2 linked regions of the Homo sapiens genome follow. The protein of the gene in region 1 interacts with the protein of each later gene in a pairwise test. Each region holds a gene or a part of one and is shown on either strand. Other genes may lie near its edges.

Region 1 (7,497 bases):
ACAGACACACCCATGCACACACACACAGACACACACATAGACACACACACAGATGCACACACACAGACACATACACACACACACACGTGCTGACAGTAATAAAACTAACATGCATTGGGTACTTCCTATCTATCAAACACTTATCTATACCTCAGTATTATTATTTTTATTATTATTATTACTAATAGGTCCAAATTATAGATAAGGAAACGGAGGCCCAGGAGCTGAGTGACTTGCTCCTGCACACAGTGGGTGAGTGGTGGGGTGGGGTTCCACCCACTGTCTGGTTCCAGAGCCTCGCTCTGCACTTCTCGAATTCAGATTCCTCACCAGCTACGTCGTGTGTCTGGGTACACCCTTCCGTCACTCCTGTTACCCAAAACCATGACCGTCTCAGGAACCAGCTGGCCACAGACCAAACACTCACCCTAACCTGCCATCACACAGAGGCACTGAAGAAGCGACCGGCTCACACGGTGCCAGCCACAAAACCAGCCAACCAGCCAACTAATGAATACAAAATTTAAAATCCCGCTGCCAGATAAAACAACTTAAAGCTGAGGTCTCCCTAAGACTTTGTCAAGAGCATCTTCTGAGCCAGGAGGAACAGGTACCTGGTCCCTTTGCTCCCAACACTCAAGGGTATCATCTTGAAAGCCTTTAGCAGAGAGAGATGGTCTGGCAGCTTCCTGAAGGGAAAAGTCAGCGGCTCCTGGACAGCACCCTCCTCCCCGTTTGCTGCTGTGCGTCCGCCCTTTCTGACCTCACTCTTCAGTTAAGGATCCAGGGTGCTCAATCCTTACTTGAAGCGTAAGTCCCCTCCTCGAAGGAAACACTTTCCACCCTCTGCTATTTTGATTACAGTGTAAATTGATTTCAGGTTGTTCCTGGTGAGGAGGTTTTGCCTGGGGAAGGAGTAAGGGACTGGACGCGTCGGATATTTGGGGAAGAAGGAAAACCCAGTGTGCGCAAGGACCACAAAGGGGTCCTCCAGCTGGAGCTGAGCTCTGCCGGCGGGCACGTGCTGCTTGTCCTCCCAGGAGCCTTGGGCTGCTCCCTCCGGAAGGCACAGGGAGAAATAAGGGGTCCTGAGAAATGTCACTGCCTGCACCCAGCAAAAGCCCATTTCTTTCTTCTCCTTCTCTTTTTATTTTTCTTTTCTTCTTGCTCTCTCATTGCCCCCAGCCCGCCCCACTCCTGTTCTCTCCTCCTGCACCTGCAATTCCTAAACAACCCTGATGTTTTTCTGATTTCCGGTCCCTCCGTCGAGTCTGTCTTTAAAGATGAGTACTTTTTGCTTTGCTACTGTTATTTTTTTAGATAATTTATTGTTAAATAAAGAATTTTAAAGCAAAATGCAGTGGGACAGATGTCAAAGGCAAGTTGAAAACATAATTTCTGTCAAATACTATTCTGGATTTCCTAAGGTTAGGCACAAGAAAAGCATCAAATGAAAAGGTACTTACTCAAACTAAGTCTTTTTAAAAAGTCTGTATTTGAAAGGAAAACAACTTTTCACTAAAAATATAAATCATTCTTATTACAGGAAAACCATAATTTAAGAGACTGAGAAAAGTTTTTGATTCACAAATAAATGGCATCTCCCTAATACACTTAGGACTGTTTGTTTTTAATCAGTGACTCTTAAAAATCACTGCTTCCACCTGACAAACTCAGGCGAATCACTATGGATTGGTGTCCTCTGAGCCACCCTGAAGCATCCCATTTTCTCTACACATGTCCTTTTCTCCAACTTTCAGCAAAGCAAGAATGGAGAAAAAGAGGATTAGAAGGAACTTCAGTTGGTTCCCTGGTGAATAACTTAACAAAATAAAACCTGCTTTTCCATTTGTATTACACATTCACAATCTCTCACTCTTACTTACTCTATTGGTGAATTTCAGATTCTGTCCACACATATAATTATTTGCCTGAACTTAACACTATCTTCCTGACAAATAGTAAATCTCCCAAGGACATCTCCGAACCTGGCAGTGTCCACAGGCCACGTCCTCCCACAGGAGTCCCTCGCCTGCTATGCAGCTGTTGGCGTCCTGAGCGATCCCAGTGTTTCCATGGGGGCAGAGCAAAACCTTGGGGATTCTCTAACATAATTTTAAGACTACATTTCACACTTAAATGACCACGTTATGAAACCTGGCAGGAAAATCCATGTTATTAATAAATGCCATGTCTCTTGCTCTCCCAAACACAGGAAGTATTTTTTGCTCTGCATATGTCTGCGGAGACTGTGGGGTCCCAGAGTGGAAAACTTCTCTAGTAACAAAGTACAGAAATTATCCCTGAAGTATAGTCTTTGCTTTGCTACTTCTGTAAGCTGTGTAACTGGTGAATTTTGCCTGTCTCCTGTCCTCCACTCCCCAAGCTGCAAGTCCGCAGGTGTCAGTGGGGCCTTGGCCCTCTCCCACGGGCCTCCCCGACACCCCCTGCAATGCCCTTCCCCCCGGCAGACCCCAGCTAGTGCTCACTGCCTGCGCTGGTTTGATTTCGATAGGTCCACAAGAGGATTTCCACCCTCTTAGTCTCTAAGGAAGATGGACTGCCCCAAGAAGGGAACCGCAATGAGGCTTGAAATCTTTTTCGTCTGGTGGGGGCAATGGGATGTATCAGGATCCTGCCTCCTGAGATGCGGCCCACCTAAACGGGCGTGGACATCTCCTCTTGGCCACACTCGAAACATCCCATGCTGCGGCCAAGCTCGGATAATAAAATGGTGCCACTAATTGTACGCCTTCCCAAAGCCTCCCACCTTCATTTTCTGATTGCCGTTTCTGAAAGATGGAGGTGTAGGCAGCTGTTGAGAATGAGCCACTTACCTGGCAGGTAGCAGCAAAAGGTCTGAAATGGCAGATGAGTCCTGGTGAGCTCACCTCCTCTGCAAAGGGTGATGATTGCTGTAAAGTGTCTTGGTCCCAGATGCTAAGATTCCCTAGACGTGGACTGGCAGCTGAGCTCCAGAGGCCAGGGCACGTGTGACAGAATTATTTATCCATCTTCCACCCTAAGATATATGCCGTTTGCTCTGCCCTTGGCTATGGAAACCAAGATGGATAGAACAAAACAAGGAAGTCGTCACATCCTGTCTCTGAGAAAAATCTTGAATTCCCATGTAAAATATCTCTCCAGGGTCACAGAAGGAGGGGAAAGGTATCTGAGAGCTTTGTAGAGAGCGACAGCTGCAGAGGCTCAAAGTGAGGAGAAAACGCTCCAGCTGGGTTCAGGGTCTTTGTGCCAGTGAAGCTCGGACTCCAAGGAGGCAGGGTAGCAGTCCCCGAACAGTGAAAGAGAGTAGACTGCAGTCTCCACTAACTAACCACGAGGAAGGGGCTGATGACCAATTTTTAACCCACCATAACCTTCTCCTCAGGACAAGGTCAGTAAGGAACAAATCCTGGGGGCATTGTCGTGAGGCAACCTGCAAAACCTGTTCACGTGCAACTTAGAAATGCAGGAGGGTGCTGGATTGGGATTTCTCTAGTGGAGAAGAGGTCAGAAAAGAAGCAGCAAGCACTACCCCAGCCCAGCCCACCCCATCTTACTGTAGGCCATGGTGCAACTTGGGCATTAGCGGACTGAGGCACCAGCCACCCAGCTGCAGCCCACACTGACGTCCCCTCCAGGGAACAGGCCAGAGCTGAGGCACGAGCAGCTCAAGCACATGCAGTGTTGTGGGAAACTGAGGACCGGAGAGACCGATGTGAAGAACAGGAGGATTGTTTATTTTAGGTACACACCGGCTCAGTGGACTCACATCCAAAAAGCTGAGCATTAAACAAAGACAGAGCGGGGTTTTTGTAAGTGGACTTACAATAAATAAAACAAAAGCAGCTAATCATGATAGGTCACATAATCTATAGCATAGCATAACTTGTGGCCTTGCACAGCGGGTGACTTTGTAGCTGCATTGAAAGAAAAACAAGAACTGGCTAAGTACAGACATTTGTAAAACACAATCATGCTTAAGAAGCCTGGGAAAACAGTAACAGTAAAAGAATTTGTCTTTCTCTCTTTTTCCTTCAACCTTGCTCTGGAAGTGGGGCGGCGGGTATCTGGAGCCCATTCCTTTGGCCTTGGCTTTCTGGACACTGTTATAACTGTCCTTGCAGTGGGCTTGCTATAGGCAGAGGAAAACTTGTCCTTTACTTTTTAACCCTTGCCTTGCCTGTTACTTTTCTTGGAGTGAATGAAGGCATATGTATTTTTAAATTTTCTGCCTCAGTAGCACACCCCAGGGACTCCCAGAAGTGCCTGTGTTTGTAGAGGGGCCTCTGCAGGTGACAGGGCGCTACATGGGTGGGAGACGGGAGCCAGCAAGCTTCAGGCATGGACCTGGAGGTGACTGTCTGTGCTCAGACAGGCTGGTGAGACTGGGCACCCAGGCTTATTAATGTGAACAGATGTCCCTAGGACAGCAAAAGGGGCTGAACAGTGAGCTCAAACAGTGGGTGCAGTTCCCCGGGCCTGGGGAGACAGAGGAGGGCTCAAGGACAGGGTATACTTAAGATGGATGCTGCATAAACAGTAGGATCAGGGAAGCCATGGGCAGCCCGGGAGGACAGAGCCTGCGAGGACAGACATTCTTCGTGGAGGGAGGTGATTAGCATGTGGGAGGTAGGAAAAGGCTAGGGGTTAGCCAGACCAGTGTGTGGCTCACTAGTGGAAGGGAAGGTTGAACAGAAGTGGATGGGACCACATTGCAGAGGCCCTTGCATGCCACATAGGGAAGTGAAAGAGAAGGAAAATTGCACTTGTAGAGAGGGGCTGCTCGAAAACGAGAACATGGCCTAAACTTTTCATTGCCCTTAGGTTGGATTCCTCCATGCTGCCTGGGGAGAGGTGAGATTGTCACAGCAGAAATGCAAAGAGAGAGAGAAATGGGCAGAGTCCACTTCTGTGGCTCCTAGACACAGCCCTGGTGGGATGTGGGAGGGGGACCCCACCTGCCACCACCGCCTGCATATCAGGCGCATCATGCAGTAGGAAAGATGTAGACAGCGGCTGTCCCTGCCAGCCGAACCTCCCATTCCAAGACCCAGTAAATGCATAAAGGCTCAGATCCAAAATGAAGGTAGGTGCTGAACCCCTGGCGGACTATAGGTGCCACTGGAGAGAATGGACCCTCATCTGTCCTTGTGTGGGATTTTTGGGTGTCAATTTTCTTCCCAGAAACCTCTGTGGCACCTGAGTTCTTGTCCTGCCTCCAGGAAGAATGAGGTCATGAGGTACACAGACAAGTGAAGGGTGAAGAAGATGCAGAGAAGCTTTATTGAATGCTAGAACAGCTCAGAGGTGATCTGCAGTGAGCTCCTCTCTGTAGGTAAGTCCTCCCCTCCCACTGAGTGTTCAGCTCTCAGCAGAGAAGGCCCTTGAGAGGGTAGCTCCTCTCTGCCCACTGGTCCTCCTGCCACCTGCTGCTCTCAGCAGACAGAAGTCCCTGGAGAGAGTGGCTCCTCTCCACAGGCAAGTTGTTCTGAACACCTCTGCAGGTCTCTGAAGCTCTCAGCAGAGAGGGTAGCTCCTCTCTGCAGCTGGCCATCCCATCGTTTCTCCATCCTCTGCCCTGCTCTGGCTGAGCCTCAGGCTTTTATGCACCTCAGAGGGGAGGAAGTGCATGCTGATTGGTCCATGGGCAGCCAGAGGGAGACACCACAAGTCCCCACTCCAGTCAGAGGGACTGGCAGCCAGGCCTTCAGGCCCTCCCTGGCCTGAAGGCGGGGCCTTACTGGGGACCCGCCTTCTCCCTCCAGGGACTCTGTCTGCCTCCCACTGCCATTTATGGTCCCTGGCTAGGCCCCAACCCCGCTCTGAGAGTGGGAGCAGAGAGAGGCCAGGCAGTGGGAAGCAGACAGCCCTGAGCCTGCAGGGATGGGGGTTGGGGGGCTGGGTACAGGGTGGTTCTTCCCAGGCCCTGGAGGTGCAGAATGCACAGATGCCGGGGTCCTGCTCCTGGGAGGGTGGCCGAAGCTGCACCCGGGGAGCTCCTGCCCCATCAATTCGGAAGGGGCAGGGCTCCTGCTTGTCCTGGCTCCTGCCTCCTCCGTGGAGCAGGAGGCTGAGGTCTGCAGCTGTGGGTTGGGTGGCTGCAGCTGCACGCAGAAGGGCAGATCCTGCCTGCCCCTGGCTCCCACCCAGGAGCTCAGGGAGGCTTGGATCCACAGCTGCAGTTTGGGTGGCTGTAGACCCACACAGGAGGGTTGGGATCCTGCCTGATCTGTACAGCAGGAGGCCTGGGTCTGCAGTCACAGTTTGGGTGACTGCAGCGGTACCCGGGGAGCTCCCGCCCCATCTCAGAAGGGGCAGAGCTCTTACTGGCTCCGTGAAGTATGCAGCCCCAGCCAGGCCTCCCTGCTGCAGCCCCTGTGATGGCAGCGGCCATCACGTGGAGGGAGGTGATTGGCACGTGTGGGGTAGGAAAGGCTAGGGGCTAGCCAGGCCAGCATGGAGCCATCACTTGGACAGCGGAGAACATGCCCCATTATATAGCTTCCGTGGTGCACAGCAGCCCTCACCATGAGGTCGTCTGAGGGAATTCTGGAGGGGCTAATGGGAGAATCCTCATCCCCAGGGCAAAGGCTATTCTCACGCCCAGCGTGGGCTACCAGTGGAGATAGAAGCAAAGTCATGCCAGCCTCGCAAGTAGTGAATTCCTCCTTTTCTGACGATCCCCCATCCACCTTCCCCGGCAGCCCACAACATGGCCCTTGAGCTTCCTTACTGCATTTTCATTTTCTCCTGTTCCGTTCTCCAGGGAGCTCACACTGACATTCTTGTGCCTGTCAGCTGGCACAGTGCCCCCCATTGTGCTTTGTCACACAGATAGAGACGTGCACAGGCACTGGGAGATAGGAGAGGCCCACTGCTGCCCTCACAGCCACAGGTGCTCATCTTTGGCTCCTGAGATTGTGGGGGCTGCAGGAGCCACACACACCCTCTACTCCCAAACAGCCTGACCTCGCCAAGGCAAGCCATTTTCGAGGGTGACTTGAGTGGTGCTGCCCAAAGGGATCAGCACGGAGCATCCCTAGCTCGGAGGAATTCCTTCACTGCAAGAAGTAGCCAGCACCTTCTCCTGACACACAGAAGTGGGTAGAATAAGGAGCTCCAGCTGCGGGCTTACGCCAGGTAGAGTGAGCATTGGTTATGGAGGAGACCCCGTGAGAACAGCGCTCATCTGAGTCCCGACCATTGGTTATGGAGGAGACCCTGTGAAAACAGTGCTCATCTGAGTCCCGACCATTTGTAGGAGGGAAGTGGGTTGGTGCCCTTATATTACACCTTTTCAGAGAGCCAGCCAAAACGCAGTTTGACAGGGTTTGAGTTGCATAAACAGGTGGTAATAATAATAATAATAAACTAGGGGGAGCTGAGCGTGGTGGCTCACGCCTGTAATCACAGCACTTTGAGAAGCTGAAACAAGGGTCTTGTTTGTGTCCAGGAGTTCGAGAGCCCAGAAGTTCTAGACCAGCCTGGGCAACA
Region 2 (7,017 bases), on another chromosome or scaffold:
AGTAGTAAACACACACTTGTTCAAATTGTCTTCTGAAACTATGAAAGTGAAGGCAGTTTTAGAGGAGACCCTAAAAGAACCATTCCTGCAACCCCTAGATTTCCAACTGTGACAGACTTGCCTAAAGCGTCACTTCTTACATATGCCTGAATACCTTATCGATTTCTTGGGACATCATCTCTTGACTGAACTGAATGCAAATATTACCTTTTCCCCAGGATGGGTGAATATTACAGTGTCCCCAGATCAAGCCCGTACCTTGCAAGCTGCATTGTTGCAGCAACTGGCTCAGAATTTCTCTCTCATCCCTGAAGAATTCCTACAAGAGGTGGGTACTGATTCCCATCCTGGGCAGATGGGAAACCAGATAGTGCTAAGTCTGCAGTCCCAGGACCAGTCAAAGTATATGAGGGAACCACACTGCTGAGTCTTAAACAATACCACCTGAGAGAAGAGGTATGAGGAAGTATTCAGTTTTTGTTGTCTGATTTCCTCCAGTCTTTGTACTCAACAGACCTTGCTGGTCCTCGCGTAAGAAATCTTATCTGGACTTCTCTTAACTGACTAAAGCAGAGCATTGTGAAAATACAGCCACCATTATCTCTCTCCAAGGGAATCCTCGTGTAACCACGATAGGTGTGTGGCCTGATGCCTACATTCATCTTCTCATCTGTGTCTCAAGGAGTATGGGGTTAGGGTTTTGGGTTTTTTTTTAGTTTTTGTTATGTTTGTTTTGTTTTGTTTTTGAGAGACAGGGTCTCACTCAGTCACCCAGGCTGGTGCTATCATAGCTCAGTCCAGCCTTAAACTTCTAAGCTCAAGCAATCTTCCTGCCTCCGTTTCCCAAGTAGCTGAGGTTACAGGCACGTGCTACCACTACTGGCCTTAAAAATTTTTCTTTTTTTTTTTTGGTAGAGTCAGGTTATCATTATGTTGACCAGGCTGGTTTTCAACTCCTGGCCTCAAGTGATCCTCCCACCTCAGCCTCCTAAGTAGCTGGGACTACAGGCATGTGCCACCACACCCAACTAATTGTTTTAATTTTCTGTAGAGATAGGGTTTCTCCCTGTGTTGCCCAGGCTGGTCTCAAACTCGTGAGCTCAAGTGATCCTCCCACTTTGACCTTCTCAAGTGTTGGGATTACAGGTGTGAGCCACTATGCCCAGCCCCTACATTTCAATATGGGTGAGTGAAAATAGAGATGTAATTTTCTGCACTGCACTACTGCATTGATCCTATGAATTCCATCCATGGAGCCCTTGGAAGTCCGTGGATCACAGATTAAGACACCTATAGACGTTGTCATCCCCTGAATGAGGAACCTAAGTCACTTTTATGGTTTTGTGAAACAGTAGTTCACAAACATTTAAGAATTGAATAGTGGCTAACAAAAGAAATATTGGCTTGGTGCGGTGGCTCACGCTTTTAATCCCAGCACTTTGAGAGGCCAAGGCGGGTGGATCACCTGAGGTCAGGAGTTTGAGATCAGTCTGGCCAACATGGCAAAACCCTGTTTCTACTAAAAATACAAAAATTACCCGGATGTGTTGGTGCGCACCTGTACTCCCAGCTACGCAGAAGGCTGAGGCAAGAGAATCACTTGAACCCAGGAGGCAGAGGTTCCAGTGAGCTGAGATCATGCCTGGACGACAAGAGTGAAACTCCATTCCAAAAATAATAATAATAATAATAAAAGGACATATCAAGGAATTAACAGAAAATAATTAAAATCAAAGACAATAAAGGATGAACATAATTTTCAAGTGATTTAAAATTTATATTTAAAGGGGAATACCTCCTTAAAAACCGAAATCAAAAGTCACTGCCCAAGGAGCTTCTGTTACACAAGCTGGTAGACAACCCTAGGAAGTAGACCCATTACGTAGTTTCCAGAAATACTGGTTGGGTTACCTTCCTGGGCTGCATTCATAGTGGCTAATTTCTGTAAATATAACAATATGCTTTTCCCCAGTTTAGTTTAGATGGCCTCCTAATTGGGTTTATATCCAAAAAGCTTTAGGACTTTGGGCTTAGCTCATAGGAGAGTTCATGGATGTATGCTTGGAGTCCATGATTTTTTTTCCATATTAAAAGTGGAATATCAAGTATTTGAGAAACACTGGCTCATACATTGGCTCAGGTGGCTTCTCTCTCCCACCTCTCTACATTCATTGAGTCACTACTTGAATTTGTCTTCAATAGACAATGCACATTTGTTGGAAAGAGCTCTGGATGTGTGGGCACATGACAAAAAACTGATTTTCCCTCAGAATCGCCTCTCAAATCATCCAAATTCAGAGGCCCAGAATTGTTCCTGTTTTGCTCTCCCCTGTCCCCCAAAGACCTAGAGAGTAGAAGGATGCACAGAACCTGCTCTAAGACTATCTCCCGTCCATCCAGTCTATCAGCACATGATTTTCTATTACTCAAGGACTGCTTCACAGGAGTGGGGGTTTGAAGATAAGTTCTGGATATAAACTGAACCTTCTGTCATTCCAACAATAAGGTGGCCCAGTGAGAAAATCAACTAAGGTGGTTTGGCTAGGAGCAGCCTTTGGAAGTGTTGTTAGAAAAGATTTGCAAGAGTCTTACTTTATTCATAAATCGTAACTTTGACTAGTGTTGATGAACCAGTATTGGTCACATTTGCCAATTTGTGGGGAGTTGGCATGGAAAATATGGTGGAAAATTCCGGCTGTGATGTTAAAGGTAACCATTGAACACTTGCACAAACTCAGTTGAAGAAGTTGTGGTCTTGTCAGTTTGAGCTGAGTTCAGGACTGAATCTTGAGGTCCTGAAAAACAACTTAGCCAGCACCTTGTGACCTATACTTCACAGTCAGATGTTACGTATAGTAGCATTGTAGAAACTATGGCCAGGCTATGTGACATTTTAATAGTAAGCAGTACAGTGTCACCAAACAGCTAAAGGTTATAATTAAAAAACTGAGTAGAGAAATTTCAGATACTGGCTACCTAATCATTCATAGCTATTTGGCCACTGTGTTCACTAGATATTCTTTCACCTCTCAATGAAGGTCTCACAATTCACAACATTAAAAGTGATTTTCTGGCCTGACCAAGTGGCTCATGCCTGTAATCCCAGCACTTTTAGAGGCTGATGTGTTGAGGCTTAGCTAGGCTCAGGAGTTCAAGACCAACCTGGCCAACATGGTGAAACCCTGTCTCTACAAAAATTAATACAAAAAACTAGCCAGGCATGGTGTTGCATGCCTATAGTCCCAGCTACTCAAGAGGCTGAGGTGGGAGGATTGCTTGAGCCTGGCAGGTTGAGACTGCAGGGAGCAGTGTTTGTGCGACTGCACTCCAGCCTGGGCGACAGAGCAAGACCCTGTCAAAAAAAAAAAAAAGGCAAAAGACCAGGCACAGCGAGTCACACCTGTAATCCCAGCACTTTGGGAGGCTGAGGCAGGCAGATCATGAGGTCAGGAGATCGAGACCATCCTGGCTAACACGGTGAAACCCCGTCTCTACTAAAAATACAAAAAATTAGCTGGGCGTGGTGACAGGCGCCTATAGTCCCAGCTACTCAGGAGGTTGAGGCAAGAGAATGGGGTGAACCCGGGAGGCGGAGCTTGCAGTGAGCCGAGATCTCGCCACTGCACTCCAGCCTGGGCAACAGAGCGAGACTCCATCTCAAAAAAAAAAAAAAGGTGGCTTTCCTCAGTGAAGTTCCCATGTAACATAGCATAACCCTCCAGGGACTTCCCCAGAAGTTTGTTAGAATTGAGAGCAGAGCTAAGTCTCTGGTTGTCTCCTGATAGCACCAGATAACCCTTTTCTGGGGTCACCTAGGGTCTTGCAATCATTTTGTACCCAGGGCTCAGCCTTTGATGTTTGTAGCCTTTGCTCGAGGCTACTGTTTGAGTGAGCCCAAGTGTTCCAGATGAAACGATACAGGGACAAGTTCACATAATAAGGCTGTTCCCCATCACCACCTCGGCTACCAATCAGCTGGAGCCCTGCAGCTCCCCCTACTATTCCTTTCTCCACTGCTGTAGATTTCCAGGGCTCTGAGAAAAGGAGGAGGACGCAGACTCTGCTCTTCAGATCCACATGCTGATCCCCACTACAATCAGTGACCTGAACTCAGAGTCCAAGTAGGGTAAGAAGGGCTCTGCTGAGGTTGCTCGGGGGACAGCCAGGAACACTGGAAGGAGGCTGATTGAACTTTTAGATAGCAAACAATGGAGAAGGATCCAAATCATGGAAAACAAAGGTCTGAATTCTGGTTAGCCTCAGTCCCACTGATACAGGCTTTTCCCTGCCCCTCCCTTCCTTCACCGCCAGTCCTCCTAAGCACAGTGCATTAAAGCTGCTTGCATCCTACTCTTCTATCTTGTGTAGGCCTTTATCACCAGGACAGGGTTCCACAGATGAGGAACCCTGTGCCTGATGTGGGCATTTGACATCTTTAGAAGTGCTCTCACATGCTTGCATCTCATTAGACTCTTGCAGGTCTGTAGGGAGCTGTGATTAGGCCTATCTGAGGACACCGATACTCAGAGCTATGAATCAGGCTAGAGGTTCAGTAGGGCCAGGAATACTCCTCATGGCAAATGAGGACAGATAGCTGGTAAAGAGATAACTTTTTCAAACGACCATACATCCTATGCTGTGACCACAGTAGCTCTGCGGGGGACTGTTTTAGTTTTGGTGCCTGATTGATTACAGCAACAGTTCTAAACTGATGTCCTTTTATGATGGCATTGTCAATAAGCTCTAACAAATGAAGATCATTTGTAATAGCAGTAATTAGGGAAATGGCCTCTGAGAAGGGATGCCGATAGTTAATAATGATCACATGTTTCACCCAGACTTTGGGGAAAGTGTTATAAGGAAGTCAAGGTTGGAAAAACATCATTTTTCAGAGAAGTGCAATTGCAGCCTGGGCTGTGGTTTCCAGAATCAATGCCTTCTGCCTAGGAACCACCTCCCAAGTAGTTACTCATCTTCTACATTCCCTTAAAATGCAACAATCTTTTCCACTTTGCAGACAATACGCTTAAAATGTCATTTTTCTATTGGACACATGATCTCCTGAGAGCTTATTTGGTAAAAGAGAGCTCGATAGTGATTGGCTCCTCAAATTGGGTAGAAGACAGGGTAGACAGGAGATATTTGAAATTCTCAAAAGGTACTTTATCTATATTTTCCAAATTTGTGTTAGCTCTCACAGGCTAAAGCATATTTTTAGTTCTTAGAAACTGTATTCTTTTTTTTTTTTTTTTTTGAGACGGAGTTTTGCTTTTGTCACCCAGGCCGGAGTGCAGAGGTGTGATGTCGGCTCACCGCAACCTCCGCCTCCCAGGTTCAAGCGATTCTCCTGCCTCAGCCTCTCGAGTAGCTGGGTCTACAGCCACCATGTCCAGCTACTTTTTGTATTTTAGTAGAGATGGGGTTTCACCATGTTGGCCACGGTGTTTCTCGAACTCCTGACCTCAGGTGATACACCCACCTTGGCCTCCCAAACTGCTGGGATTACGGGTATAAGCCACTGTGCCCAGCCCAGAAACTGTATTCTTTAATGAGAATCATCATCTTCTAATATGGAACCAAATAGCAATATAGTGCCCAAGTACCTGCTTGGCAGGGAAAGGAATTTTAAGGTGGAGCTCAGCTCTCTGAGTATAGTCTGGTTAATGCTTTTCTTTCTCTTCCCTGTAGACACGCAGGTGGACGTGGTGACTGAGATGACATCCTCTCTAAAGATTTGGGGCATACTCTTGGCCCTGCTTTGCATCCTTTGCAGGCTGTGTGTATACAGTAACAACATTTACTGGAGAGAATTCATAAAACTTCATTACTTAAGTCCAAGTCGAGAATTCAAAGAGTACAAATGTGATGTCCTCATGAGAGAAAAAGAGGCTCTGAAAGGCAAGAGCTTTCATATGTTCATCTATAGCTTATGGTTCAAAATTCAGCGTGCATGCATCAATGAGAAGGGGAGCGACCGATATAGAAATGCATATGTATGGGCCCCAGGTGCCCTCAAAGTACTCGAGTGTCACTGGGAGAAGTACAACAATAGGTACACAGAGAGCAGAAGCTTCAGCTACATTGAATTCCATTGTGGCGTAGATGGATATGTTGATAACATAGAAGACCTGAGGATTATAGAACCTATCAGCAACTAGAAAGTCTATGCACATCCTCAGATATTGGTAGAGTATTCAGTGCTTCCAAAGTGGTGGGCCCTGCCTCCATCAATAGCCCCTGCCACTCCCCGCTTACATTTATGTGTCAGTGTTTTCCAACTACTTAGAGTTTATGTACCTCGTGATTTCTTGATACCAAATCTTTGTGTGGTTTCTGTATCTGTAATACAATTTTGTCCTAATTTGCCTAATTTACACCCACATTTTTTCCAAGATTCAGCTCATATGGCATCTGTCCTCGACTAACCTAAGACTTTCCTGATATTGACTCTCTTTATACCTACCCAAGCTGAACGACCCTCCTTTTCTTAAATAAAATATATTATTCTAACGTATGTGACGCTTATATATGTTATGTGTGCAGAGTATGTATCGTGTGATTGGTATGGGTATCGGTGATCTAGGCTATTTTTGCCTATGGCTGTGCAAGGGGTTTAATGTGCACTTTATGTGTCTGTGTCTAATGTATGTGATATGTTTATGTATATCATGTGGATATAAATGATTGTGTGCTAAACTGGAGACAAGTAGTGATGTAAGCACTCATCGTGGTAGCAATTTGAAATAATCAAAAGGGTCAAAATCCAGTTTTAAGGAGTGGGCTGGGCACTGTGACTCATGCCCATAATTTCAGCACTTTGGGAGGCTGAAACAGGTGGGTCACCTGAGGTCAGGAGTTTGAGACCAGCCTGGCCAACATGGTAAGGCCCTGTCTCTACTAAAAGTACAAAAATTTGCCAGGCTTGGTGGCACATACCTGTAGTTCTAGCTATGGGAGGCTGAGGCAGGAGAATCTCCTGAACCTGGGAGGCAGAAGTTGCAGTGAGCCGAGATCACG

What was found. The genes of interacting proteins can lie anywhere in the genome.
Region 2: the proteins of BTNL9 (region 1) and EDDM3A interact in binary tests that used the Homo sapiens proteins (3 or more experiments, as listed by UniProt).

What each region holds. Positions count from the first base shown.
Region 1 is NC_000005.10:181,035,773-181,043,269, reverse strand, and holds the start of BTNL9 (butyrophilin-like protein 9 isoform a precursor), read right to left. Parts: upstream 3,005-7,497; 5' UTR 2,838-3,004; intron 1-2,837.
Region 2 is NC_000014.9:20,741,867-20,748,883, forward strand, and holds EDDM3A (epididymal secretory protein E3-alpha precursor), read left to right. Parts: upstream 1-4,020; 5' UTR 4,021-4,126; intron 4,127-5,688; 5' UTR 5,689-5,714; coding exon 5,715-6,158; 3' UTR 6,159-6,514; downstream 6,515-7,017. UniProt on the Homo sapiens protein: Possible function in sperm maturation.